Regions from separate parts of the Homo sapiens genome. Here region 2 is linked to region 1. Evidence: fine-mapped expression QTL. Tissue or cell type: tibial nerve. Region 1 holds a variant in brackets; the other region holds the start of a gene. All regions are shown on one strand. Distances are from middle to middle.

Region 1 (8,260 bases):
AAAAGCCTCCTGCCAGACCCAAAATAAAAGGAAAAGAAACTGGCCAGGCATGGTGGCTCACGACTGTAATCCCAGCACTTTGGGAACCTGAGGCGGGTAGATTACGAGGTCAGGAGTTAGAGACCAGCCTGACCAACATGGTGAAAACCCGTCTCTACTAAAAGTACAAAAGTTAGCTGAATGTGGTGGCACATGCCTGTAAACCCCGCTACTCTGGAGGCTGAGGCAGGAGAATCACTTGAACCCGGGAGGCGGAGGTTGCAGCGAGGTGAGATCACACCACTGCACTCCAGCCTGGGTGACAGAGTGAGACTCCATCTCAAAAAAAAAAAAAAAAAGGAAAAGAAGCTGGAAAATAGGACCTCAGCTCAAAAGCATGTTTCCTCTTGAGTGCATTTTAATATCTATACCAGGTTCCATATATCAAATGCTTAAATTTTTAAAAAGTGTTCTAGAAAATAAGGATACTCTGGTTAGAGTAAGTGAAAGTTCTTTACCTCTCCACAGTTTGCCTCTTAAACAAATAAACCAAAACAGCCCACACAGCCACATGCAAGGGAACAACTAGGCAGCACCAACTTTCCTTCTAACAGTCATGGAAGTCAGCAGGACATGGTTAGGAGTCATTTGGAATTACTGTAGCTCCATGCTGGCAGCATTGCCCAGTGGCCCCTGACTCTGAGGTTTCACCATCAGGCAACAAAGCCACTCTGCCTCCACGGCTACTCCTCCTACAGCCTCGCTCTACCTAAGGGCTTGCTTGCTGCCTTATCTCTGCATGGGTTAGCCTCAACCTCCTCAGCATGGGATGTCCTCTTGAGACTCACATTCAAACTCTCCAAAAGAGAGGATTTGATTGGTTCCATTGGTTTCTGATGTTCTTTGGAGACTGACTCCTTGGCTTTCAGTCTATAGCCAACTGTTGTTGGGTTTGCTGTCCATCTCTGCTCCATGGTGGCAGGGTCAAATGATCGGCTTTCTTCAAAAGGAGCTCCACATGGGCAGGTGCTCCAAGAGTAAAATAATCTGTTTCCCAGTACTGACTTGTTCCAGCTGCATACACTACTACAAGATTTGACATCTGTCTTCCCAGTTTATAGATTAGAAGCAATTAACAATAAAGAGGGGAAATGGAAAATGAGAAAGCATTTACAGTCATTAACCAAACATTACTAATGAACCAACATTTATTAATCACTTTCTAAGCAATAAGATCTGGCTGCTAAAAGCATAGCGTGAGGAAACAGGCCAACAATTATAATATAAAAAATTATAATTGAGATATAAGAACTGAAGAGGCTAGCAATTGGGGCCATTTAATGTCAGGGCAAGTTTTGCATCCTTTCGTAAGCCCAATCTGCTCCCATTTTAAAGCACTAAATAAAAGCTAAGATTCAAAATAAATCTGAGCCATGAAAATATTAAGCTGGGTTCTAAAGACTCAACTCAGTGGATAAGAACAACTTAGGTTTTTTATTACTGCTCTGTCACCACCCCTTCAACAAAAATCATCTACAGGCCAATTTGTGTGATCTCTGTACAGACATCAGGCTTTTAATGCTTTTTCATAGTCTATCCCAGACACTCTTGGGACTCTTGGGTTTAGGCAGAGGCTCTTGGCATAAATTTCAACCCTACATGTCAAAACAAATGTTCATGTTCCACACCCATTATCTTCACTAATAACTACAGCTGCTGCTGCTGCTATTAAAATTAGCACATACAGGGTGTCAACACTGTCCCAGGCACTTTACATAGATGAACCCTCTCAATATAGTATTATGCCCACTTCGAAGATGAGAAACTCAGGCAGGTGCCTGGGAAGGTGTGTTGGCCCCATGGGGTGGGACAGATGTCAACGCTTGGAGAAGTCAGCCAGGCTGGGAATCCAAGCTACACTTCCTCATTCCAGTAGGATGAGGAGCAGCCTAAGTGGATGGCTCTTCCTCAGGCTTTCTCCTTTTTGGTCTCCTTAAATATCTATAAAGCTTTTGTTGCTGTTGTTGAAGTTCTAGGGAAAGCATGAAAGAGAAGCAGCAACACCCTGTGGGCAGGAGGCAGTAGCATTCAGGGTGAGAAGTGTCCTCTCAGGAAACACTGTCAAGGCTGGCCAACTGCCCTCTCCCACTGGTCTTACTGCTCTCTTTTTGAGATGGAGTCTTGCTCTTGTCTCCCAGGCTGGAGTGCAATGGCGAGATCTTGGCTCATTGCAAACTCCGCCTCCGAGGTTCAAGTGATTCTCCTGCCTCAGCCTCCCGAGTAGCTGGAATTACAGGCATGCGCCATCACACCCAACAAATTTTGTGTTTTTAGTAGAGATGGGGTTTCACCATGTTGGCCAGGCTGGTCTCAAATTCCTGATCTCAAGTGGTCCGCCAACCTCAGCCTCCCAAAGTGCTGGGGTTACAGGTGTGAGCCATGGCGCCTGGCTCTCCCTGCTGTCTTACTCCAGCTATACTCCTTCCACAGACGACTTTGGAGGTCCTGGGTTTTGCTTGGAGGTTCTGGGTTTTGCTCTCAGGAGGGAAACAAGGTTCCTTTCATATCTGTGATACGTACATTTGCCAGATAATTCAAGTTGGGATATTCTAAACAACCATTTCTTTAGATTTTTCTAAGCTCAATCTTGTATCTATTTGGATTCTCAGAAATCTTTCTGGTTATAGAATGTTTGTTTCTTTTAAAAAATCCAGGATCATTATTAAAAGCAACTAAAACTAGCCATTCTCATTTAGGATCCCTGCAGGGGATCTATACAATTTGAGGTGAGTTTAATACAGGGACTATTTACAAAGTTGTGCAGACAGAGCTTAGGGAGCCCACCAAAGGACACTGACACACCCTGGGGCTAGCAAAAGAGGGGAGCAGTTATCATTCAGAGGCCTGGAGGGGAGAGAGGAGACAGTAGTTACCAGTACCAAGACAGGGTGGCCTGAGGTAGAGGAATGAAGATAAAGCATGGTGACTTGGAAAGGAAGAAACCAAGGAAATACATCCCTTTCCTCTGGCCCTCCTCCTATCTCCTGCCAGTATTTCTCATTTGCCAAACTCTACCGGAAGGCTGAGAACCAGAGAGGCCACTGACATAGTCCATGGAAGTCAGCCCCTCCTGGGGCACAGAGTAGGGTGAGAAAAGATTGGAAATGGACATGGATATGGAGGGGCAAATGGAAGATACCCAAGGCTTCCATTATTAATGAGCATCGACAACAATATTAATCATTTCCATTTAAGTCCCTGCTTTGTGCCCTTCATACCAATCTTGCATTTTACAGATAAGAAAATGATGGTTCACAGGTTAGTGTTCTCGAGTGTCCCTGTAGATTAGAAGTCAAGATAACCCTGCAAGAGGGAAATTAATAAGGATCAAAACAAAAACGGATGATCTCAGCCATCTAGATATGTTAGCTATCTGTTGCTGCTAATGAATTTTCCCCAAATTTAGTAGCATAAAACAATAAACACTTAGTATTTCACACAGTCTCTGTGGGTCAGGAACAGCTTGGCTGGGCGGTTCTAACTCGGTCTCCCATGAGATTTTCAAGAAGTTGACCAGGTCTGCAATCGTCCGAATGCTGGATGAGGCCTGGAGAATCCACTTCCTAGGTGGCTCTTGCACCTGGCACCATGATTTGAATATCTGTCTTTAAATTTAACTGACATTGTCATAGTATTAAGAGGTGGAACATTAAGAGGTTATTAGGTCGTAATGGCTCTGCCCTCAGAGGTGGGATTGATACTGTTACAAAAGGATGAGTTCATCCCCTCTTTTTCTCTCTCTTTGCCTTGCTGCCATGTGATGACACAGCAAGAAGGCCCTTGCCAGATGCCGCTGTCTTAATCTTGGACTTCCTAGTGTGTAGAACTGTGAAGAAATAAATTACTGCTCTTTATAAATTACCCGGTCTCAGGTATTCTGTTAGAGCAGCACAAAATGCATGAAGACACTCACCCTGCAAGTTAGTGCTGGGTTTTAGCAGGAAACCTCAGTTCCCACCACGTGGACCTCTCCACAGGACTAGTTGAGTGTCTTCATGAAATGGCAGTTGGCCTACCCTGAATGAATAATTCAAGAAAGCCAGACAGGGAGGAAGCCACATTCCCTTTTAAGACCTAATCACAGAAGCTGCACGCACTGTTACTTCTGCCACATGCTATTCATTACAAGTACGTCACAAAGTCCGGTCCACCCTCAACAGGAAGGGAATTAAGTTCCATCTTTTTTTCTTTTTAAGAGACAAGGTCTCGCTCTGTGGCCCAGGCTGGAGTGCAGTGGCATGATCATAGCTTACTGCAGACTTGAACTCCTGGACTCAAGTGATCCTCCTGCCTCAGTCTCCTGAGTAGCTAGGACTACAGGTACATGCCACCATGCTCAGCTAATTTCATCACTTGAAGAGCAGAGTAGTAAAGAATTTTTAGGCGTATTTTAAAACCACCATATGTCACAATAGCAATATTGAAGACATTGTGGTTATATAACTGAAGAATTTGGGGAGGACTTGAAACTGCACTGAAACATGACCATCACCAAACAAGGTGAAACCTCCCGAGCACAC[T/G]GTGTACTGCCTGAAGAAAGAGCTGGCAGAAGAGGAATAGTTTCCCAGGCATCTGTGCAAAGATGGCCCAGGGGAAAATGCTGCACAGGAAATGGTGATCCTAGTGAACACAAGCTTTCCGATAAAAGGAGAGGCATACTTGGTTTAGGAACAGGAACCTGTCATGTCTGGATGAAATATGTGTCAGAATTATCCATTTCCCCTGGGCAAGGCTTACCTTCTGGGAAGGCAATGTCTTAGGCAGCAGACACGAGGATTTCACTAAATCTAAAGAACTACCTCCATTTAATATCAAGTAATTGCTCATTTTTGATGCCCAATAGTGTCTTATGAGTGTGGCTAATGTGACATCAGCCTGAACATTTCCAGATTTGCATAGCTAAGGACTGAGTAGATCCACGGAAGTAGAAATCCCACCCTGGTATGGCCTGCCTGCAGAGCAATCACTGCCTCAGGTCACAGCCTTATCTTACCATGCCTTTTGTTAGTGCAGAACCTATTCCACAAAAACTCATGTGATGATAGGGCACTGTTTATGACAGCAAAATAGTGCAAACAACTCAAATGTCTCCAGGAAGGGATTGGTAGAATAAACTGTTACACAGTGGAGTATTATATGGCTGTAAAAAAGGAGGAGGAAGATGTTTATAACCAGTGCTTTCTGAAAGAAATTTCTGTGATAATGGACATATTCTATTCTTGGACAAATGGTAGCCATCAGCCGCATGTGGTTATTGACTGCTTGAAATGTGAATAGTTCAGCTAAGGAACTAATCTTGTTTTTTTTTAAGACAGAGTCTCACTCTGTCACCCAGGCTGGAGTGCAGTGGTGCTATCTTGGCTCACGGCAACTGCTGCCTCCTGGGTTCAAGCCATTCTTGTGCCTCAGCCTCCCCAGTCGCTGGGATTATAGGTTCGTGCCACCACACTTGGCTAATTTTTGTATTTTTAGTAGAGACGGGGTTTTGCCATGTTGGCCAGGCTGGTCTCCAACTCCTGGCCTCAAGTGATCCACCTGCCTCAGCCTCCCACAGTGCTGGGATTACAGGCGTGAGCCACTGCACCCAGCTAAATTTTAATTGTATTTAATTTTTGCTTAATAGCCATATATGGGTAGTGACTATTTTATTGGACAGCACTGCTTAATACAGATCTCCAGGATAGATTGTTAAGTGAAAACACAATATACAGGAAGTGTAGACCAGTGTATATAGGATGTTACTTTCTGTGAATGAAAGGAAGAGAAAAACATATGCATTACTTATATTTGTGGAAGTTGCATAAAAACACTGAAAGGATAAATTTAAATGGTTGCCTCTTCGACAAGAACAGGATGGAATGAAAGTGAGACTTTGCAGTGTGTGTGGTTTTTTTTTTTATTTTAATTTCCCTTTTCATTTTTTTTTTTTCTTTTTGAGACAGGGTCTTGCTTAGTCACTCAGGCTGGAGTGCAGTGGTGCAGTCACAGCTCACTGCAGCCTCAACCTCCCAGGCTCCTCTGGCCTCAGCTCCTGAGTAGCTGGTGACATATGCACCACCATGCCTGGCTAAGTTTTGTATTTTTTTTTGTAGAGATGGAGTTTTCACCATGTTGCCCAGGGTGGTCTTGAACTCCTGGGCTCAAGTGATTCTCCCGCCTTGGCCTCCCAAAATGCTGCAATTACAGGTGTGAGCCACCATGCCCAGTTCTAGATTCTTTAAATTGTGCTAAAAATAAATAAATAAATAAATAAATAAATAAAAATAACATAAAATTTACCATCTTAACCATTTTATAAAATTAATAAACTTTACTTTTTAGGACAGTTTTGGGTTCACAAAAAAACTGAGTAGAAAGTACAGAGAGTTCCCATCCCCACTCCTGTCCCCACGTACGCACAGCCTTCCACTATCAACATCCCATACCACAATGGTACCTTTGTTACAAGCAGTGAACCTTCATGGGTACAGCATTATTACCCAAAGTTCATAGTTTACATTAGGATTCACTCTTGGTGGTATACATTCTATGGATTTTGACATACATATAATGACATGTATCTACCATTGTATACATGTATAATGACGTATGTATAATGACATGCATCACACAGAATAGTTTCACTGACCTAAAAATCCTTCATGCTCTGCCTATTCATACCTCTCTCCCTTCTAACCCCTGGCAGCCACTAATCTTTTTACTGTCTCCATAGTTTTGGCTTTTCCAGAATGCTCTATAGCTGGTATTATACAGTCTGCAACATTTTCACATTGGAAAATGCATTAGTAATATGCATTTAAATTTCCTCTATGTCTTTTCATGGCATGATAGCTCATTTCTTTTTAGTGTTGAATCACTTGACATTGTCTGCATATACCAAAGTTTATTTATCCATTTGCCTATGAAAGGACATATTGATTGCTTCCAAGTTTTAGCAATTATTAATAAAGCTGCCGACTACTATAAACATCTGTTGCAGGTTTTTGTGTGGATGTAAGTTTTCAAATCATTTGGGTAAATAACAAGAAGTGTAATTGATTGATTATACGGTAAGAGTATATATAGTTTTGTGAGAAACTGTCAAAAAGTCTTCCAAAGTGGCTGTACCATTTTGTATTCCCACCAGCAATGAATGAGAGTTCCTGCTGTTCCAGACCCTCATCAGCTTTTGGTGTTGTCAGTATTTTGGATTTTGGACATTCTAATAGGTATGTAATGGTATCTCATTGTTATTTTAATTTGTAATTTCCTAATGATGTATGATGCTTAATATATTTTCATGTGCTTTTACTTGCCATCTGTAGATCTTCTTTGGTGAGATATCTTTCAGGTCTTTGTCTATTTTTTAATCAAGTTGTTTGTTTCCTTGTTGAGTTCTAAGAGTTCTTTGTATATTTTGGGTAACAGTCCTTTATCAGTTATATCTTTTGCATATATTTTCTCCCTGTCTATGGTTGTATTCTCATTCTTTTGACATTGTCTTTTGCTGAGCAGTTCTAAACTTTAATGAAATCCAGCAAATCAATTATTTATTTCATGGATTGTGCCTTTGGTGTTGTATCTAAAAAGTCATGACCATAGCCCAGGCCACCTAGGTTTTCTCCTATGTTATCTTCTAGGAGTAGTGTAGTTTTACATTTCACATTTTACATTTCAGTCTATGATCTATTTTGAATTAATTTTGGGGAAGAGTGTAAAGTCTGTTTCTAGATTCATTTTCTGCATGTGGATGTCCAGTTGTTCCAGTACCATTTTTTGAAAAAATTAGCCATTTTTAGGTGTCTAGTTCAGTAATGTTAAGTATAGTCACATTATTGTGAAACAGATCTTCTGAACTTTTTCATCTTGCAAATCTGAAATTCTATACCCATTTCTATTAGTCCATTTTCACACTGCAGATAAAGACATACCTGAGACTGGGTAATTTATAAAGAAAAAGAGGTTTAATGGACTCACAGATCCACGTGGCTGGGGAAGCCTCTCAATCATGGCAGAAAGTGAAAGGCATGTCTTACATGACTGCAGACAAGAGAGAATTTGTGCAGGGAAACTCCCCTTTATAAAACCATCAGATCTCCTGAGACTTATTCACTATCACAGGAATAGCACGGGAAAGACCCACACTCCTCATGATTCAATTACCTCCCACAGGGTCCCTCCCATGAGACGTGGGAATTGTGGGAGCTACAATCCAAGATGAGATTTGGGTAGGGACACAGCC
Region 2 (8,000 bases), 100 kb before region 1:
TACAAAAAAATTAGCGGGGCGTAGTGGCGGGCACCTGTAGTCCCAGCTACACCGAAGGCTGAGGCAGGAGAATGGTGTTAACCCGGGAGGCGGAGCTTGCAGTGCGCCGAGATCGCGCCACTGCACTACTGCCTGGGCAACAGAGGAAGACTCCGTCTCAAAAAAAAAAAAAAAAAAAAAAGTAGAATAATCTGACAGGGACTAGTTTAATAAAACACAATGTAAGGTTTCAAATGATCATATAGACCTGTATTTACTAACCTGGATAGACATGAAAATAGCAGATTATAAATAAAAAACAGTGTTGTATCTTTTTATGATGAATATACATATACATATGCTCACAGAGAGAAAGTCTTAAGTGGATAAATACCCAGATGTTAACCATGATATCTCTGAGTGTTGGGATTACAGGTACTGTTTATTTTTCTGCTTACTTCTCAGATTCTCTGAAATTTTCTCAAGCAAAATGATACTTACAAAAATTAATGTGTATGATTCCAACTAACAAACTCCAAACTTTTTGCAAGGAAGCTTGCAAAATGCCCTAGAATATCCAAAAATACCCTAGCATAGAGCTTTTCCAAAAGGGAAAGTATCAGCAACAACATAAGTAGAAATCTGTGAACTGGGCACCCTAGAGGACTCCAGGTCTGCTGTAGGACCTTTAAGGAGGACTACACAAGACCTAGGCTCAAGTCCCTGCCACTTTTATTTGTATGACCTTGCAATAGTCACGTACCCTTTCTGGGCTCACTTTCTCTATCTATAAAAAGGATTTAGTTATTACTTGCCTTTCCTACCTCAAAGAACTGTTGGAAAGATCAAAAGAGATAATGCAATATATTATGAACTGCAAAGTACTATATAAGTAAGATATTATTATTCAAACATTAAAAAAGCAAGATGCTTCATGCCAGAGTCAAACACTTCAGAAAACACCACAATCAATTCTATGAAGTAATGAATCCGTTTTTGGTTGTTGTTTTGAAAGGCTACATCTCATCATAAACACCCAGTTTTTCTGAGACTTGGATACTTTTTCCCAGTTCCCGCTACAACCATTGGCCATTTTATTTTCTTATCCCTGGTTACCAGCAAAAAAGGGTACAAATTACACTAAACTCAAAAGCCTCAGCAAGAACCCTGGAGCAGCATGCTGATGGAGTTCACCAGGAGACACCCAAGGTTAATCAGCTATGGACTCGCCACTAAGCACTACCGCAATCAACAGGGATTACAAGAAACTCTTTGAAGAAAAAGACAATGGGATCGCCCAGGAGAAAACGGTGGATGAAAAGAAGGAGGTATTTCAAAACAATCATATGAAATACTTAGAAACTATACGTAGTATTTTATAAACTATACTGTAGAGTTTTTAAAATACTGTTGATAAAAATAATGACATAAAACAAAAGCCATCTAAATGTGGCACTTGACAAAAGCAAGTTATAGAGATTCAAATCAAATCCATGAATAAACTATCAGATGTACTTGACTCTATCTGAAATAAAAGCAGACAAATTACAGCGTAAGGATCAAAATTAAGTAGCTATTTCTTGAAAATAAAGAGGCAGAAAATAACAATAGAATTCACTGACACACTCATAGTAACTTTTATAATTATGGTTTCTCTTCCCATTTAATTTCATTATTTACTCCACTAAAATGCTGATGGACTTCTTCTCTCCCACTCTTCTTCCTGTAAATTAAAATGGCACTATAACTTGGTTTGAGTTTTACTCCAAAAAAACACATATTTTTTTTTAAATTACTTTAAGAGGAGTTTCATGAAGCTGTCAGCTTATTAACTACCAAGATCATCTGGCCATCACACCCTCCTGCTTCTAAGTTCCTAAAGATGACAAAATACCCTCCACATTCTTAAAAATGACATTTATGGGTACTCCCCTAATGAAAAATTAAACCTTTCATAAACAAATGTGCATAGAGAATTCATTTTGATATGTATGACTCACAATCTAATTTTTATTGGCAATATCTTGAAGTGTTGCAGCTTGCACAATTCCTACAGGGGATAAAGATCTATCTGTTTTTCCCATCTGATCTTTGCACATTTCTTATAGATTTAAAAGGACTCACTAAAAAAGCCATGAGGAAAATAATTATGAATACAATCCACAGCAAAATGAAGTATGGGGCTGAAACCTAAAATAATGAAAAGTCACTGAGTTTTATGTAAAGCTTCACAGTTGAAGTACTCTATTCCCATTTAAAATTTCAAAAAATCTAGATTTTTTTCTTCTTACTCTGATTTTTCCTATCATATTAGGAATGTATGATATTTACCTCCAAAAAATCACAAACAAAAAGCCTTCAGAAAATATCATTTCCAAAAGGAGTATCTGCCAAACCTTACTGCACAGAAAATTATATATACACATTCTCTTTTTTTTAACACATTCTCAAATAACTATGGTAGGCGTTCCTGAGATCACCTCCTCCACCCCTCAAAAAAAGAACAGCAAATCTAACCACAATAAAGTATTAACCAAATTTTTTTAACGCCGCTATCACCAGCTAAGCAATTTATCACACAGCTCCTCAAAGTCTCAGACACACACAATGACATACCAACATGTCAAAACAGTTATTATAATTTGAAAAATTATACAACAGGAACATAAGAGTAGAAAAAAAAAACTTCCTCTGGAAAAACTCTAGTAGATTTGGGAGAGCACAAAAAACGAGATTAATTTTAGAAAAATAACATTTCTTCAAGTGTTTGGTGTTTATCTGATACTGGTTCATTTTCGTAAAGAGAAACTTTACCTAACAAGACTCACACCAGGGATCTGATCTATCCCCAAAGGCACTTTCTTAAAATGAGAAAGAACAAAGAAGGAAATCTCTCAGCATGTGCTTTCCATACTAGTTTCTTTGGACAGCATCAAGAGTGACAATATAGTCTGCACATGCTTTTCAGCTTTATTCTATGGTCCATGTATAACAACTGATTAGCTATCATTCAAAAGAACTCCTAACAAAATAAATATTACAAGGCAAAGATCACAGCAACATAGTGACTCTAAGAGAAAAATTATAGAAAACATGTCTTAAAGTTGTGTGCTTTTTTTTATTTCAAGGGTTAATTATCTCCAAATATTCAAATTCCTAAGGCTTTCTCATTTCAGTCAATAGTTTGAAACTGGGGAAAAATCAAAACCATCCATTGTAAATCTGCTCTCCCTTCAGTAAATTTGTAATTAGAAGTACATTTTAAAAGAATGACACTCAAAGCCAATACCTTAACATACGAATCTTGGAGTGTAAACATTGTGAAGTTATTAGGAGAAAAGCTCTTTCGGTGAGGATATTCCACAGGAAAAACTCTACAGAATCAAATCTGGCATTTGGTTGTTCTAGAAGTTGTCGTTTCATTATAACGGGGAAAAAATTAAATAATTTTTATTTATTATAAAAAGAAGACTCTCCCCAAAGATTTACAATTGTATATCCCCATCTCCTCTCTGACAGAGATGTCAGTTCTCTGGGTCGAGACATAACCAGCTGCTGGGTTCACACACACAGGAAGCCACAGAGAAGATCGCGTTCAGAGCCTCGAAATAATACGCGTTAGTTAAGAACTGCCTGCTACTAAACCAAAATTATTCAAGCGGAGCCCCATTTGTCACAATCCAGTCATAAGGGTTCCACCACCCCCTCCCCCAACTGCTTGTGTAGTGGTATATCTGCTACGGTAAAGAAGCCATCATCAGGTAAAGATTGGGGTGGGAGAAAAGCGGGGAAAAGGGGGCACCCTTTCATCTAATTTCGTGAGGCGTGAGTAATTGGTACTGTTAAGAGGAACGTTCTATTTATCGGGGGTTGGAGTAGCATGAGGGGAGAATTTCGTTCAAATCAACATGGCCAGCAAGATGTCCCTACAAACAAAAGGCAATGGGGGGATATAAACACGAACCATTCACCTCCATCAGCTACAGCATCGCCATCATGGTGTGTGCAGAGACCCCCAAAGGCTCCTCTCACCCTCCACACCAGCTAAGGCAAAAGAAGGGAGAGAGGTAGCTGCATCCCCCCCTCCCAACACTGCTTCCAAAGACACACTCTTCGAGGGGGTTTCTCCCCTCGGCTGCCCGGAATCAGAGAGAAAGAGTAACGTCCCGCTCACTACCTCTCAGCCGAACCCCAACGCCGGCCCGGGGCTCGCTAAACTTTACCAGAGCTTCTCCCCCAGATCCCCACCCTATCGCCCCGGGATCGCGCTTCCCACAAGCGGGGCACCCCAGGCGCTTCCTGACAAGCGAGCAGCCGGGGAAAGCCGAGTCCGGGGCGGGGGCTACTGGGATCCACGGAGGGGCGGGGCGGCCGAAGCCAAGTTCCCGGGGGTCTGAGAAGAGCGCCTGACAGGAGCCCGGGACTGCAAAGGAGGAAGAGGAAGCGGCCACGGGGAGCTTTCCCAATCCCCCCTACGAGAGCACCCTGCCCCCAGCCCCAGCTCCCCATGGGGGGCAGGGAGGCTAACTGGAAGGTGAAAAAGCCGAGCCCATGAGACAGCTGCAGCCCCTACCTCCGGACTCCCTATCTCTTCCCCCGCCACCCCCGCCAGAGGCGCCCACAACAATAACACGCCGGGGACGACCCGTCAGCGCCCCCGAGGCACCCGGGGCCCGCGGCCCGCCGCAGGCGGGCCCCCTCTGCTGAGACCGGGCGCGCCTCTCTCCCTACAACTCCAGGCCCGGGTGGAGTCAGGCCCGAGAGGCCCCCCAGGGTCGGACCCATCCCCCCTGGCAGCAGCGGCGCCGTCTCCGCGGCCGAATATTAGAAGTGAATTCGAGCTGCGCTTTACCTTTAGTTCCGCACTGTCCGCCATCTTGCGTCTGTCAGCGCAAGCGCAGTGAACTTCGCCGGGGGCCGCCGCTAGACCCGCCCCTCTAGCCGGCCTGGCCCCGCCCCGGCCCGCCCCTCCACCTTCCCAGCCCGCCTCTAGCCTCCGCCCCGCTCAGGGCGCTCGAAGCCCCGCCCCGGGCACGTACAGCTGCGAGACAGGCACGTTCCATTTAAATAATGGCGCCAAGCGGCGAGGTTTGACAGTTACTGCCCCCTCGGTCTCCCTGCCCCCCATCCTAGCTCGGCCAGCTCCTCCCGGGAAGGGCCGGAGCGAGAGGGATGCTGGCCTGAGCCCCATCTCTCTGCGGTCCGCGGAACGCTTCTGCATAGCTTCGACGCCTACGGTCACAGAAACAATGCTGTCCCCCAACCCCCAATAAGCAAGGCTTTTTCAGCACCTGCTACCTGCGAGGCTACCAGTGGGCTAAAAATAGAAATCCATTACATTTAAGGGGCCCTTAATGAAGCATTTCTATCATTATTGGCTCAGATCCTCTTGATAACGAGGGGAGGTAGGCAAGGAAGAGATAATTCCCATGGTATAGATTCAGAAATGAAAGCTCAGAGAGGAAAAGTGACTTGCACAAACAAGTATTTTAACGAGGTGGCGTAAGACAAAATTTTGAAGGTGTTCATTAACATTTTTGTTTAAAAAAGTATTTATTTAGTGACCATCTGCTTGCCTTGTGCTAACGGCTAAATATACATTTTGAAATCAAAGTCCGTGCCCTTCTGTAGTTCTCTAATGGGGAATCAGAGAAGTGAACGAACAAAGATACAATTGCAAATGTTAGTGAGTACCAGAAAGGAGCAAAAGGTCATTGAGAGAGAGAAAGGGTTTGGGAGATGTACTTAATTCTGGGAGGGTTTTATCCACTAAATTGACATTTAAGTAGACTTGATGGAAGGATTATTTCATTCCTTTTCGTCTCTACTGAAAGCCTTCTATATACCTCCTCCCCAACCCCCACTTTTACTAATCAACTTTGCCTCATAACTCATGGAAAAAATGAAAGATATCAGAAATAAACTCCCTTATCTTCTCACCATCAAAACCACCCTTATCTGCATAGTAACATTTGGGTTGCTATGAATGAAGTGTCCCTGCGCCTAGGAAGGCCAGTCCCTTTACCAGTGACCGGATTTTTTTCACGCACATTCCTAAGGATTTTACTCTTACAATTACCTACCCTCCAGCATCGTTAGTTTTTTCCCTCTCAATTGAATTGCTCCTATCAGCATATAAATATATTGAAATTTCTCCCATCTAAAATAAACTTCCTTTGACTCCAAAATCGCCTCTAGGAACTGCCCTATTTTTCTGCTATCTTCATAAATTCTTAGAAAGGTTTTTCAAGATCTCTCCAATAGTGCTTGTTCCTACCTCTCACTTCACATTCACTTCTCAGTCTACCCTGATCGAGCTTTGGCTTCCATCATCTGTATCACTTATCAAGATTACTAATGATCTTGTTTCCAAAGGCAATTGCCAATTCTCTATCCATATCTCAATTGACCTCTCTGTAGAATCGCGAATAATTGACATGGTTCCTTTGATTTGAAACACTTTTCCCCCTGAACTTACCTACACGTCACAGATAGTCCTGTTCCCTCACTGGGCCTCCTTTTTGATATGCTGGTTTCTCCTCTTTGGCTCAATCTTTAAATGTTGGACTGCTCCAGGGCTCGGTCCTTGCATTCTTCTCTATTTTATCACCAGGTGATCTCATCTAACTGGTTGACTTGAAGTCTATATGCTCATGACTTTGAAAATGCTCTCTAGCCTAAACCTCTCCATTGTCAAGAAACAAAAGTAAAACAAATTGAGATTCAAGATCTCATTGGCATTATTGCACTCCTAGAATTGGACAAAACTTCATTCCACAAAATAGAATAAATGTTGCAATGAATCAAGCAGAGGATGTTAACTTTAGAGACAGAAAATAGACTGAAGAAGGCAGAAACAACAAAAAGCAGATTGGTTATATCAAAGTCACTTTTCTTTAAGGTGGAGACGTGGAGACAGAACAGTAGAAAGAAAACTGATTGGTTAACATTGGGTTACTTCAGGTATTCTATTTTAAGGATTAAAACAGGAAATTTCATTATCATGCCTGTTAAAGATTGAAACTTCTGTTTGGAAAATTGGCTATCTCTCTTACCATTTTTTGGAAAACCAGATAACTCAGTTTTGTTTTGGTGAACATGGGTGACACCATTTTGATTTTTAGTCTGATCTGGAGGCCTGATGCAGGAATTTGGTTGAAAACAATGGCATCCCATGATTTTTATTTAACAACCTAGGTGAAATTGTGACTAAGACTGAGGGCATTAGCACTACCCTCATTTAACATCATTCTGTGTTTCCAGTCTCAACACATCATTTATAGATTACAGTGTCCTCATGATTTTGTATTTCTGTCATTGCAGCTGAAGAGAGACCATATGACATTCAACAATTGGCTGTATGCAAATATGTAAAACTTTTTGAGAGAACATAATTGAGAATTGTGACTATCAGGAGGACAATGCCAAGAGTTCGGAGTATGCTTCTTAGCTAGGGTTGCCATAAACCAAACCAACTAAAATCAAATAGATCAAAGAATGAGCCAGATGAGAAATCTACCTGTTTTCACCAAGTAGCCTGCTAACTTTTTGAAACTGAGTCTCTACAATACCAGATTATTTATGTACAACAAGAAGTGACAGCAACAGCACAGATTTCCCCGTTTGGTTAGTACGCAGCAATTCTATCATCTAGCATCTCAGAAATGGGTTAAATTAAAGCAAAGAGTGCTAACTCTACAAAAGAGGCCACTAGTAAAATTTGAACAAACAGTTGCATTAGGGATGTTGCTAAAGTTACCCACTAGGTGGAATAAAAGCTCTCTTGGGTCCTGTAAATGTTTGGGTTTGACCCTTTATCAACTTACCCACAAAAACTACTAATTGTGAAATTTTAACTACAGCATTATCCTGCCAAGTGGAAGAGGTGGGCATAAGCAAGAAAAAATTAAGAAGGGAAGGAGTCTTATCATGGTAGCGAGTCTTATTCTGACAGTCTTGGAAAACGCTGTCCACAACATGATGTCAGCAATTTCTCATCCTGGTTTGCAGTTTAAATGTCT

The links. PIP is the estimated chance that this variant, and not a neighbour inherited with it, causes the effect.
Region 2: it holds the start of PIAS1, and the variant in region 1 is fine-mapped to the expression of PIAS1 in tibial nerve (GTEx, PIP 0.98).

The regions. Positions count from the first base shown.
Region 1 is chr15:67,951,270-67,959,529 of GRCh38, reverse strand. No RefSeq gene overlaps it. Among named protein-coding and RNA genes, the nearest start is that of PIAS1, 99 kb to the left of the region's middle. RefSeq lists an enhancer at 4,402-4,481. The variant T/G (reference allele first, on the strand shown) is at 4,560.
Region 2 is chr15:68,051,182-68,059,181 of GRCh38, reverse strand. PIAS1 (protein inhibitor of activated STAT 1) reads right to left here and starts at 4,867. Exons shown (of 14, transcript NM_016166.3): 1 at 4,832-4,867. The coding sequence starts at 4,855. RefSeq lists a silencer at 4,569-5,068.